Linked DNA regions of Homo sapiens. The protein of the gene in region 2 interacts with the protein of the main gene of each other region in a pairwise test. Each region holds a gene or a part of one and is shown on either strand. Other genes may lie near its edges.

Evidence for each region.
Region 1: the proteins of POU6F2 (region 2) and L3MBTL2 interact in binary tests that used the Homo sapiens proteins (3 or more experiments, as listed by UniProt).
Region 3: the proteins of POU6F2 (region 2) and CCNK interact in binary tests that used the Homo sapiens proteins (3 or more experiments, as listed by UniProt).

Annotation. Positions count from the first base shown.
Region 1 is NC_000022.11:41,225,687-41,229,336, reverse strand, and holds part of L3MBTL2 (lethal(3)malignant brain tumor-like protein 2), read right to left. Parts: intron 3,544-3,650; coding exon 3,396-3,543; intron 2,676-3,395; coding exon 2,593-2,675; intron 2,249-2,592; coding exon 2,014-2,248; intron 1,819-2,013; coding exon of another isoform or gene 1,763-1,818; intron 1,534-1,762; coding exon 1,468-1,533; intron 1-1,467. UniProt on the Homo sapiens protein: Putative Polycomb group (PcG) protein. PcG proteins maintain the transcriptionally repressive state of genes, probably via a modification of chromatin, rendering it heritably changed in its expressibility.
Region 2 is NC_000007.14:39,337,772-39,341,421, reverse strand, and holds part of POU6F2 (POU domain, class 6, transcription factor 2), read right to left. Parts: exon of another isoform or gene 2,302-3,650; intron 1,781-2,301; coding exon 1,407-1,780; intron 1-1,406. UniProt on the Homo sapiens protein: Probable transcription factor likely to be involved in early steps in the differentiation of amacrine and ganglion cells. Recognizes and binds to the DNA sequence 5'-ATGCAAAT-3'. Isoform 1 does not bind DNA.
Region 3 is NC_000014.9:99,501,773-99,505,422, reverse strand, and holds part of CCNK (cyclin-K), read right to left. Parts: exon of another isoform or gene 3,217-3,650; coding exon 3,047-3,216; exon of another isoform or gene 2,705-3,046; coding exon 2,439-2,704; exon of another isoform or gene 1,813-2,438; coding exon 1,779-1,812; exon of another isoform or gene 1-1,778. UniProt on the Homo sapiens protein: Regulatory subunit of cyclin-dependent kinases that mediates activation of target kinases.

The DNA.
Region 1 (3,650 bases), on a different chromosome or scaffold from region 2:
ACCACCTCCCTCAAACCAAGCCCCAGGCAGTCGTGGTTGTAACTGCTTTTTAAAATCTTTTTTTAAATAAAAAGATTTTTTGAAGAGGGTCTCACTCTGTCACCCAGGTTTGAGTACAGTGGGGTGATCACAGTTCACTGCAGCCTTGACCTCCCAGGCTCAGGTGATCCTCCTACCTTAGCCTCCTGAGTAGCTGGGACTACAGGCCTGTGCCACCATACCCAGCTAATTAAAAATTTTTTTTAAATTAGGGGTCTCGCTATGTTGCCCAGGCTGGTCTCAAACTCTTGGGCTCAAGAGATCCTCCCACCTCAGCCTCTCAAAGTGCTGGGATCACAGGTGTGAACCATCACACTCAGCCCCCGTTTTTGATTGTTGATTTCTTCCCACAACATGCACCATTCCCGGTCCTACCGTTTGAATGGTACAGAGCCTCTGCCTGCTGGATAAATGCCACACCCTCACTCAATTTTTTTTTTTTTTTTGTGCGATGGAGTTTCCCTCTTCCGCCCAGGCTGGAGTGAAGTGGAGCGATCTGGGCTCACTGCCACCTCCGGCCCCCAGGTTCAAGTGATTCTCCTGCCTCAGCCTCCCAAGTAGCTGGGATTACAGGCGCCTGCCACCACACCTGGCTAATTTTTGTATTTTTAGTAGAGACGGGGTTTCGCCATGTTGGTCAGGCTGGTCTTGGAACTTCTGACCTCATGATCCGCCCACCTCGGCCTCCCAAAGTGATGGGATTACAGGTGTGAGCCACCGCGCCTGGCCGCCTCACTCAATCTTAACCCTGCCCAAGGGACCTTGTTTCTGTTTCAGAACATCCTCTTCCCCACATGGTACCACACTGTGGAGCCCACCTCGCTGTCATAGGCCTGCGGCTCTGAAGGATGGCTTTGCCCGCTCCCGCTCTGCCCCTCAAGTGGAACCCAAGCTGGGCTCAGAATCTGTAGAGTGAGGCCCCACCAAGGGAAACGACACCCACGGCCTGAGAGCCAGGTGGAGTCCTGCCACTCAGCTGCCTGCCTTTGCTCCCACCCTCTCCCACCCTCAAAGAGGTCTCGAGGTAAGAATGACAGCCTTGGAGAGACAGCTTCTATTTCTTCCTGTGGCTTTTCCTTTAGAACCTAGCAGCTGCGGCTTGCCCAGGCCAGGCTGTTTTTTTCTGAACATGGGGCATCAGGGATGGGATCCCCCAACCTCAATCTCTTACCTCTTTTCCTCAGCACCCTGACCATGGCCAGAGACTGAACACTCCCTATTTATGGTCTGGGTCCCCAGAGACAGGGTGAAAGGCCCGTAGGCCAAAGGGCAAGGGGAAAGAGACAGGACAGGAACACGAAGAGAGCTACGTCAGTAGGACAGCACCTGGGAACCAGTGCCTGGGGGCTGACCCCCGCCTGCTCCCAGGGACGCAGGCCCACTGCTCCCAGGCCCACACCAGCCTGGCTGCACCGGTGCAGCACTTACTTTTCTTCCCAAACTGTTTCTTTTTCTTCTTTGTGGCCTCTTTGGCCTTCAGCGGTGTGGCCGGTTCTGTTGTTGAAAGACAAGGGTGAAAGAGATGAGAAGAGGGTCCCTGGGAGGACACAGGGCACAGGCGCATCCCGAGACCCCATCCACCCTCCCACACGAGACACCCCAAGACAGGAAGCCAAACCTGGGCAATGAGGAGAGGGCGGGGCTGGAGGAGGGGCCGGAGAACAGCTGTCCCTTCTTCCCACCCTTGTTACCAGGGCTGCTCAGAGGGACCTGGGTAGTTTACCTGGGTGCACAAGGGCACGAACATATGACAGAGTGGGCAAGATGAAGGAAGGAGCTCTGCAGGCCAGAGGGAAAGGGAGACAGAGAAGTCAGGAGCAGGGGCTGGGTGACGGGGCTCACTCTCTACTTAAAGTGGTCCATGAGACATCTCCACCTCATGCCAAAGAACGGAGATGGGCACAGGGGCGGGGGAAGAAGGAAAAAAGAAGAGGAAAGAAAGTCAGAGCCTCTTAGGGCCACGAGAGCCCACACCTGCGGCCACAGGAGGCTGGAGCTGGTAGCCGGTGAGCTCACACCAGCCGACGGGGTAGATGTCTGGGGACTCGCAGTCCACCCACTGGTCGTACTCGCTGTCCCAGCCGTCAAAGTGGATGCTGAGGAGCCGATGCACCACTCGTTTCACCGTGGCCACACAGATGAGCCGGGGCTCCATCAGGTCCACGGCCTCCAGCTTCATGCCCACCTTGAAGCCATGGTTTGGGCAATCCTGGGGCAGAAAAAGGAGGCAGTGGCCAAGCCAGTCAGCTCCCTACCCCAGCAGGCTTGCCCCGGCCCGGAGGCACTTGAAGAACTGGCAGGGAGGGGCGGGGACTGGAATGGCTGCTGGGGCAGCTTCCTCTAGACAATAACCCACTGCACCTCTCCCAGTACCGCCCTCCATGGAAGAGGGACTGGAGTGCCCAGGCCATAGCTGGGGACTTCCCCCTGAAAGTGGCTGATGTCAGCAGTAGAGATTCGAGAGAAAGAGTAGGAACTGCCACCACTGACAGCAGCAGGCAGGGCCTGTCCTGAGGCCACCGCAGGCCCCTTGCTCCACTTCAGTCTCCTCACCATGTTAAAGAGTCTCGATGGAGCGGCTTTCGACTTGGTCTTCTCCAAGTAGTTCTCCCAGTTGAAAGTCTGTGCCTCATAACCTGGAGGAGCAGAAAGCTCAGATGCAGAGGGAGAGGGGGAAGCAGGAAGTGGGCAGGAGGAAAGGACACATGGCTGAAGAAGCTCTGCAGCTTGGTCAGGACCCAGCATGGAGTCTCCCCAGCAGCCTTCTTCTCATCCCCTCAGGGTAGTACCTGCTCTAGCACCACAGTCCTGTTGTATAGGTTGTTCACTGACCAATGGGATAAGTGGGAGCTCTGTTCATCAACCATACACTGGCCATGGGGTAGGGTCAGCCCAGCAGTTAAGGGCTGGTGGTGGGCTCTGTCACCTTTCCCATACACCCTGAAATGCTACACTTCTGGGGCCTGACTTGACCAGGAATCTGGGCTTGTGGCCACACCCTGCCCCTTCTGTTTTGTTTTGAAGACAGAGTCTTGCTCTGTCGCCCAGGCTGGAGTGCAATGGCATGATCTCGGCTCACTGTAACCTCCACCTCCTGGGTTCAAGCAATTCTCCTGCCTCAGACTCCCGAGTGGCTGGGATTATAGGCACCTGTCACCATGCCTGGCTAATTTTTGTATTTTTAGTAGAGACGAGGTTTTGTCATGTTGGCCAGGCTGGTCTCAAACTCCTGACCTCAGGTCATCCACCTGCCTCGGCCTCCCAAAGTGCTAGGATTACAGGCGGGAGCCACCGCGCCTGGACACCCTGCCCCTTCTGATGGCAAGGACAGCAGGTGGTGGCCTCTCTAGTCTTACCTTTTGGCGGTGTGAGCTCAATGTCATTCTTCTGACAGAAGGTGGCCGGGAAGATGGCGTGGGAAGAGGCATGGTAGCAGAACCAGTCCAAGCCATCTGTGGAGGGCCCCCCGTCCACACAGATCATCAGGTATCCATCCAGGAGAACCTGGGGGGTGGGGGGAGCAGGCAGACAGATCATATCATGAACTGCACCCCATCCTGGGTTGGTACCGCACCCCAATAGGGACACGAGGCAAATGGATCCAAACGGAT
Region 2 (3,650 bases):
CATTTTAGTCCTAGGTCAAAGGTGTTACGTTGTCTCACCATCGTAAGAATTGTATAAATACATCTTGAAACTCCACTCATGAAAATGTTCAAATTGAAAGTAGCCCTGGCCCAAGAGCCCAGAAAAACACAATGACTCATCTCTCCCAAATGTGTTCATTTCTAGGAATGCTTTGGGCCACACCACTGAGAATCCAAATTGGAAGAGACAAAGCTATGGGACAACAAACTAAGTTCTAAAATACCAAGTCTCTAATCCACCTGCCTTTCTGTCCGTGTACCAACCTGTCTTTATTTTGTATACTTTTCTATTTAGGAGCCAAGGATACCATCGCTACTGTCATTCTCAGGCTGGGGAGAGCCGGACTGACTGAGGTTTATACCCACCACTATGGCAAGGGGATGAGATGGCACTTGAAACAGGTCCACAGGCTGCTCACTCTGTTTAACTTTGTCACAGTACTACAAATACACGAGATTGTCTGAAATCTCACAGGGAAAAATGTCATTGTGCAAGTCAAAGAATGGATGGCTTGGCTGAGTTATTAATTTCTGGATCTGATATGATGACATCACAGTCATTATGTTTTGAAGCTAATTTATTTTAAAGACACCTAAGTTAAAAATGGTTTTCTGAAGTTTAAAGTCATATATATATATATATATATATGAATGCACCTATCCATTCCTTCTCAATAGGTAGGTTATAGATGAGCTCTCATGGTTAGCCTGAAATATCTATTTATGAAGCTCTCAGCCTCACAGTAATAAAGTAAACCTATAGAAGTTTTATTCCTTTATAAAGATGCATATTGGTTGAGGCTCTTGGCATGAATTTAGAGTACTTGTTAGTCTGTGGAGTAATGGTTGGAATCTGGGACATAAGACTGGGGCTAAATTTCTTTGCCCTCCTAACCCCAGAGAGTCTTTAGAAAAATAGAAACAAAAGAGCACAAAGTACTTAAGGTGAGACACTGTTGTATTCATAATATAGAGAAATAACCACCATGCCTCATGGACAGTAGATGCAGTTCTCCATGGGGCTACAAAACTGTGCTAGTAATAATTTTAATTGGATGCTATCTTTGCTGCCTTCAAAAAGTATCATAAAATGGAATTATTACAGGCTCCAAATGCACTTATAGTGCTGGCCTCTCACAGAAGGAAACAGATAACATTTATCCTTTGGAGGGCAACAGAAATGGGCTTCTATTTGTTTCGTTTACATGCATCCCCAGTTGCCTTCTAGTTGCTTCTTCTTCCCTATGTCTAAGAGATCAATTTGAATTAGATGCTGCAGAACTGGATGCTAAGTTTTGTGTGGTCCCTCTGCCTTTGGGGATGGCACCACCCCATGGAAAGGTCCTTGGTGCTCCTAGGGGCAGACGGGAAGCACGGGGAGCATACCTGTAGAGGATTGGGTGGCGTGAGCGGTGAAGGCAGGCCATGTCCTGGAGACTGACTAGGTTTCTGCGGGGGGCTGGAGCTCTGCTGGGTTGGAGATGGTTGGTTCTGGTTCTGGGAGTGGGAGTGGGGTTGGTGCTGCTGGGGCTGAGGCGCCTGTTGCAGCTGAGATGTAGGAGCTGGCGGCTGCTGAGAGGCGGGTGGTGGCTGCTGGGGTGGGGTGGGCTGCAGCGGCTGCTGCTGGGACTGCGAGGGCGCCTGTGGGGCTGGTTGCGGGTGCTGGTTGGTTGACGGGGGAGGCTGCTGCTGCTGCTGCTGCTGCTGCTGCTGGAGCTGGAGCTGGAGCTGCTGGAGCTGGGAGTTCAGGGATGAGGTAGCTACAAGGAGAGAAAGCGAATGTGGAGTGAGATAACATGACAAAGTGTCTTGCTGGGTCTTGACAGCCTGTCCAGTGCAAGTGGAGAAGGGTTTCCTTTAGAAAATTCTTGTCCTTGCCCCCTGAAGCTCTTTGGTATTTAAGAGTGTTGTGAGGCACTGGGAGAACAAAGGTCACTTCTGGGGAAAGTTTAGAATTTCTGGAGGACCAGCATATAACACATCAGGCATTACTTTAAAAGGTGGTGAACAATGCAAGCCAAAGGTGTGTGGTAGGAATGGAGATTGTTTTTTAACTACTTTCTCTCTCTCTTCCTTTCCATACTGCATGGGAAATACATTCATGCTTCAAGATTTCATTTAGATTGTTGAAGTCCAACCAGTTTAGTTGTTTTGGTAAGTGTTTGACTGGAGTTAAGAACAAAAAACCAATTGTTTGCAATTGCCTTTACATCCATCATCAATATCATTAATGGTATCATTTTCACTTGCTACTTCAGATCTCCACCCAGTTGCTTAGATGTCTTAGTGTCAAATTTCTAACTGTTTTTTTTTTTTTTTAAAAATTCAAAAGCAGTACATGCTTCTCCATTTTGCAGGGTCAAAAGCCTGAGTCTGAATTTTTTGCCTGCTGATTAAAGAGACAGAACCCCTAAACTGGAGGGATGATAGCAGGTGACTGAACCAAACAGTGTGGTGATTAGACATCAGCACCTGAGGACAGGACAGCACCTAAGGACTGAGGGAATGAAATCATCTTTTAAGATCTTGTTATGAGAAAGGTAGAGTTGGTGGGAGAAAGTGTCTTAGCACTGAGCACGCAAAATTTGTTCTCACATGCCCATGTAGCACTGAACAATTTCTGCAGAAGGAAGCTGGTTAGTTTGACCTAAGAATGGTCTAGAGAAATTTACGGCTAAAAACCAAGTTCACTTTCTTTTTTGCCTAAATCTCAATCTAAAAGCTTTCTAACAAGCCCATGAACAAATAAACATATAAGGATCAATGTCAAACCCACAGGCCTTAGAGGAAAGTGTAGCTGTATTGGTGAAATGACGATGCAACCATTTCCAGGGGTATCAAATACCAATTCTGTGATCTCACATACCATGTAGGGCTTCCAACTTGGTCCAGTTGGGATAGCAAGTCCTCACTGAGCCACTGAACTGCTCTAGGTCTATGCAAGCAGTCCAGTGTGTGGCCTGCCTTGCGTGTAGAGCCAGGGTGTTCTGGGGCTTGTGATGTAATCGTAGAGATAGAGATGGCATGAGGGAGGCCTGGAAAGTACCCCGGCATCATCCCGTTTATTAGACCTTTTAGAGAAAGGCCTGCTTTTGCCATTTCCCCCTTTCTTCTAGTTTACAAAATCACATTTTATCAAAGATGTGGGAGCCCTGCTCTATTCTGACCTCCCTAGATCTTCTGCAGTCTGGAGGATCCTGGGGCAGGGGAGCCTGATCTCTTCTTCTGGTGGAGTTCCAGACTTCAGGGACTTGATTGCATCTGGCCTCCTGCCTGATTCAAATCGAACCTAACCTGATGTCTTTCAGGTGGGGGCACATATGTTAATGCTTATTTCCATGGTTGACTTAAATACCATACTGCTTCATTTTGGTTAGAAAAGCATTTATCTAAATCAGCATTTAGAAACAGGAAAGTCTGGGAATATTGGCAGATAGATGTTGGCAGACGGGTAGGTACAGCAGACCCTAACCTACTAATGAGCCTTGGTCCCAAATATGTCTCCCTTCCTCCATATCCGTAAGTTCATATTGCTTGGGTATTTGTTTTCCATAACAGCAGCTTGACTGGAAAGGCATAAACCTAAGCCTTTGAGTTACATAGACTAATTTGACATCTGCAAGCAAAAAA
Region 3 (3,650 bases), on a different chromosome or scaffold from region 2:
TGGAAATCTCTGTGTATTTTGCATTGTCAGTGCTTCAGAATTTGACCCAGTCACATTTCGAGTGCTTGCAGCCCTCTGCAGCCAGTAGCCTTCGGCATGGCACAGTGCAGCTGAGTTCCTCTATAAAGCTTCCTCCGGATCTGCCCTTCCTGCCCCGCAGCCAGCATGCTGAGGCCACCATGTTTCCCATGAGTGCCAGCAAGATTCTCCCCATTCCTAACCACTTGCCCTATTTACTGCTGCCAGGGGACTCCTTCTCAAATGAATTTAGACTCTGCCATTCCCCTGCTAAATCTCCAATGGCTTCCCTTGCCTCTGCCAAACTCACAGTCCTCCAGGTAAACTCTGTGATCTGGTCCTAACCCACATTTTAGATCCTATCAGAAGCTATTGCCTTTCAATTCATCACATTCCAGAAAGACTCCTCTCCATTTCCCCTGATTCTCAATTCCTTTGCTCACTTGCGTACTTCCAACTTATTGCTCCATCCTCCCCCTCTGCTCTCGCTGCTCAAATGCAACTCTTCCTTCAAGGTCATATATAGTTTGTTTCCTGCCTCTGACAGACCTGCACGTCAACTCAATTGCATTTCATGTGGCATGGAGTGTAGCCCGTTCTTGTGTCTAACATTTAATGTCGGTCAATTTGAAGCTAATTAAAAAATTCACCTGTAGGCTGGGCACGGTGGCTCATGCCTGTAATCGCAGCACTTTGGGAGGCTGGGGCGAGCAGATCACCTGAGGTCGGGAGTTTGACACCTGCCTGACCAACATGGAGAAACCCTGTCTCTACTAAAAATACAAAATTAGCCAGGCCTGGTGGTGCATGCCTGTAATCCCAGCTACTCGGGAGGCTGAGGCAGGAGAATTGCTTGAACCCAGGAGGCGGAGGTTGTGGTGAGTTAAGATTGCACCGCTGCACTCCAGCCTGGGCAACAAGAGTGAAACTCTGTCTCAAAAAAAAAAAAAAAATTCACCTGTACTGAACTCATCATTCCCTCAAATATACTGGAAAAAAAAAAAAAGTAGCTCTATCATAACTGGAAGATTTCACAGCAGTTTAATGAATGGAACTAAGAACCGAGAACATGGTTCTAAGAACCAGGAACTACTGGAACTAAGAACCAAGTAACAAAGAAAGACAAATGAGTCAATAGGGTCTGTGCCTTCAAAGAGTTCAGTATGATAGGTGGACTGACCCTGTGACAAAACATTTCTAACTTTCTGTTTTGTAATTGTTCCAATTTTGCTCACTCCTTCTGTTTATTTCCAATATTGACATGAACTAACTTTGGGTTCTAGACATGTGACAGCACCTCAACCCAAGTGTGTTTCAAAGAGGCCTTGCCTGCAAGGGCAGCTGGGCTGGGCCGGGCTGGTGCTGTCCGGGCAGCACACCACCCCCTACTGCCCCCCCGCATCTGCTGTGGCTTGGTGCTTGGGAGAGGACTCCTGCTGCTGTGATGGGGGTAAATAGTCTCTAAAAATAAAATTGCAGCAACAGTTCTCCTACAGCCATAATTATACTTTTATATATGTTACTGAGTACATTTTTATTGCCAGTAATGTTTTCTGTACTGATAGCTTCGTAAGAGCACAATTTTAGAATCTATGATCAGGTGATGAACAGAAAGACAATGCTGATGGAAAAGTTTTGTATGAGCTCTAAAGTTAAGATTTAAGGCCAATTTAGATCTGAAAAGAAACAATGTTGGCTAAGAATTTAAAGTTTTGCATATAAACACATAAAACTAAAAAAACATCAGAACAGGAAATTACCTGCTGCTTTGTTCTCTTCTTTGGGAGAAACAACCTGTTACAAAAGAAAATACACAATTGTTAACTGGGATCCTGAGTATGATGAGAAAAAAATGGATTATCCAGGTACCACCAGAATCAGCGACGGCAGTCACTGTGAACAGCCTCGGACAAAAATTATTTCTAGCCTGAACTTTCAGGGCAAACCACGGCACCTACCAGATCATCATTTCTGCTCCCTTCCTCTTTCCATTTACCAAATAAGACAGAATGACTAGCTTTCCTGAATGGTGAGTTCTGAGTAAACACTAAGTTTCAGGACCACTTGGGTGCAGGAAACGGTCCACTGTTTGGGGTCAGGCAGCTGCACAGAAGCAGCATGCACAACGACACTGCTAGGACACGGCAACGACACCGACAGGCTTCAGAACCCTGGCAGGGATGAAACAGGCAGCAGGGCTGGAGCCGGGCAGAGAGCCCCCTCCTGGTTCTCAGAGGCAGCCTGTCCTTGGAGCACCTTTGTTTTCAGGCTCCCCACCGACAAGCAGTCGGACTGCGAGTTTCGGCGAACACCCCCTGCTTCCGGTGTTCCCTGTGCTCGCTTAGAAATGGGAACAGTGCTCAGGTGTTGCCGCCACCTGGAAAGCCTGCTCTACCCAGGGCCTGCTTTAGCCCACTCACCACGGCTCGCTTAACCTGTCGGGGAGAACTGGGCTGCGGAGAGGGTTTCTTGGGCTGTTGGGCTGGCTGCTGCTGCTGGGCTGGTTGCTGGGGGTCCTTCTGCTGGGGCTGGGATGGTTCGGAGCTTTGAGACGGCTGTGACTGCTGTACTTGCGGCACTTGTGGTGTAGGCTGAAGAGATGGGGGCTGTTGCAGCTGATGGGGGGTGTGATGAGGCATCTGTTGTTTTCCTTGTGAGTAAAGATCCAGGATTTGGTGGCAGATGTCTAAATGATAGCCAACAATTACATTTTACACAAATTGGTATTTTAAATAAAATTTTACCTGGATAAAGAATCAGTTATGATACCCCTACGAGGACCTAAGCATGAATCACATTTACAACTCACCCCATCTTCGTTGTGTGCAACACTGGTGTGTATTTTTAGTTTACCAAAAGTATGTGTTTGGACAAAGTGGAAACTATTAGATAATTTAATTAATGATGCTTCTGAAATATTGCTCACATATGTCTATCTGGGAAAATCCATTCTTGGGACTCAGGGTACACATGGAAGAATCATCTCAACATGGAACACCCTCACGAGAACGCTTAGCATGCCTGGTACCTTCCAAAACGTCGACCGGGACATCTTGAACAAACTGCTCCCACCATCTCCTATACATGGGTTTGGAGGTCCATTCTTGTATTTCAAATTTGCACAAACGTCCTGCGAGATACATCACTGCTACTGCTATGATCTCTGGTTCCCACTGCAGTGACAAGGTGGTGCAGAGACTAGTTCAACAAGAAAAAAAAAGGTTAGATAATATGATCTAATATTTATGATTAAACCAGTGCATGGAGATGCCATAACTAACCATTAATTTGCTTATTCTCCCCTAAATTTAATTAAAGTACTATAAATAAATAAACTCAAGTCTTTACTCTTCTAAAGGTACCCGACTAAGTTACTTTAACCATAGTTAGTAATTTCTCTATTCCTTAAAGAATCAGAAGAATTCTAGCACATCCAAAAATTGCTACACCAATGAAAATGACTTATGTTATTTAAACTGTTGAAATCCTAGCCACTCAACTGTTTCTTCAAATGAAATCTTATGGAGGAAGTCAAATGTAAGAGAAGCTTCACTGACTGCAGTGGGATGGGGCTGGCAGCAACTCCATTCACAGGCATTCTGTTTCCCACCACGGCCCCTCATTAGATCCCT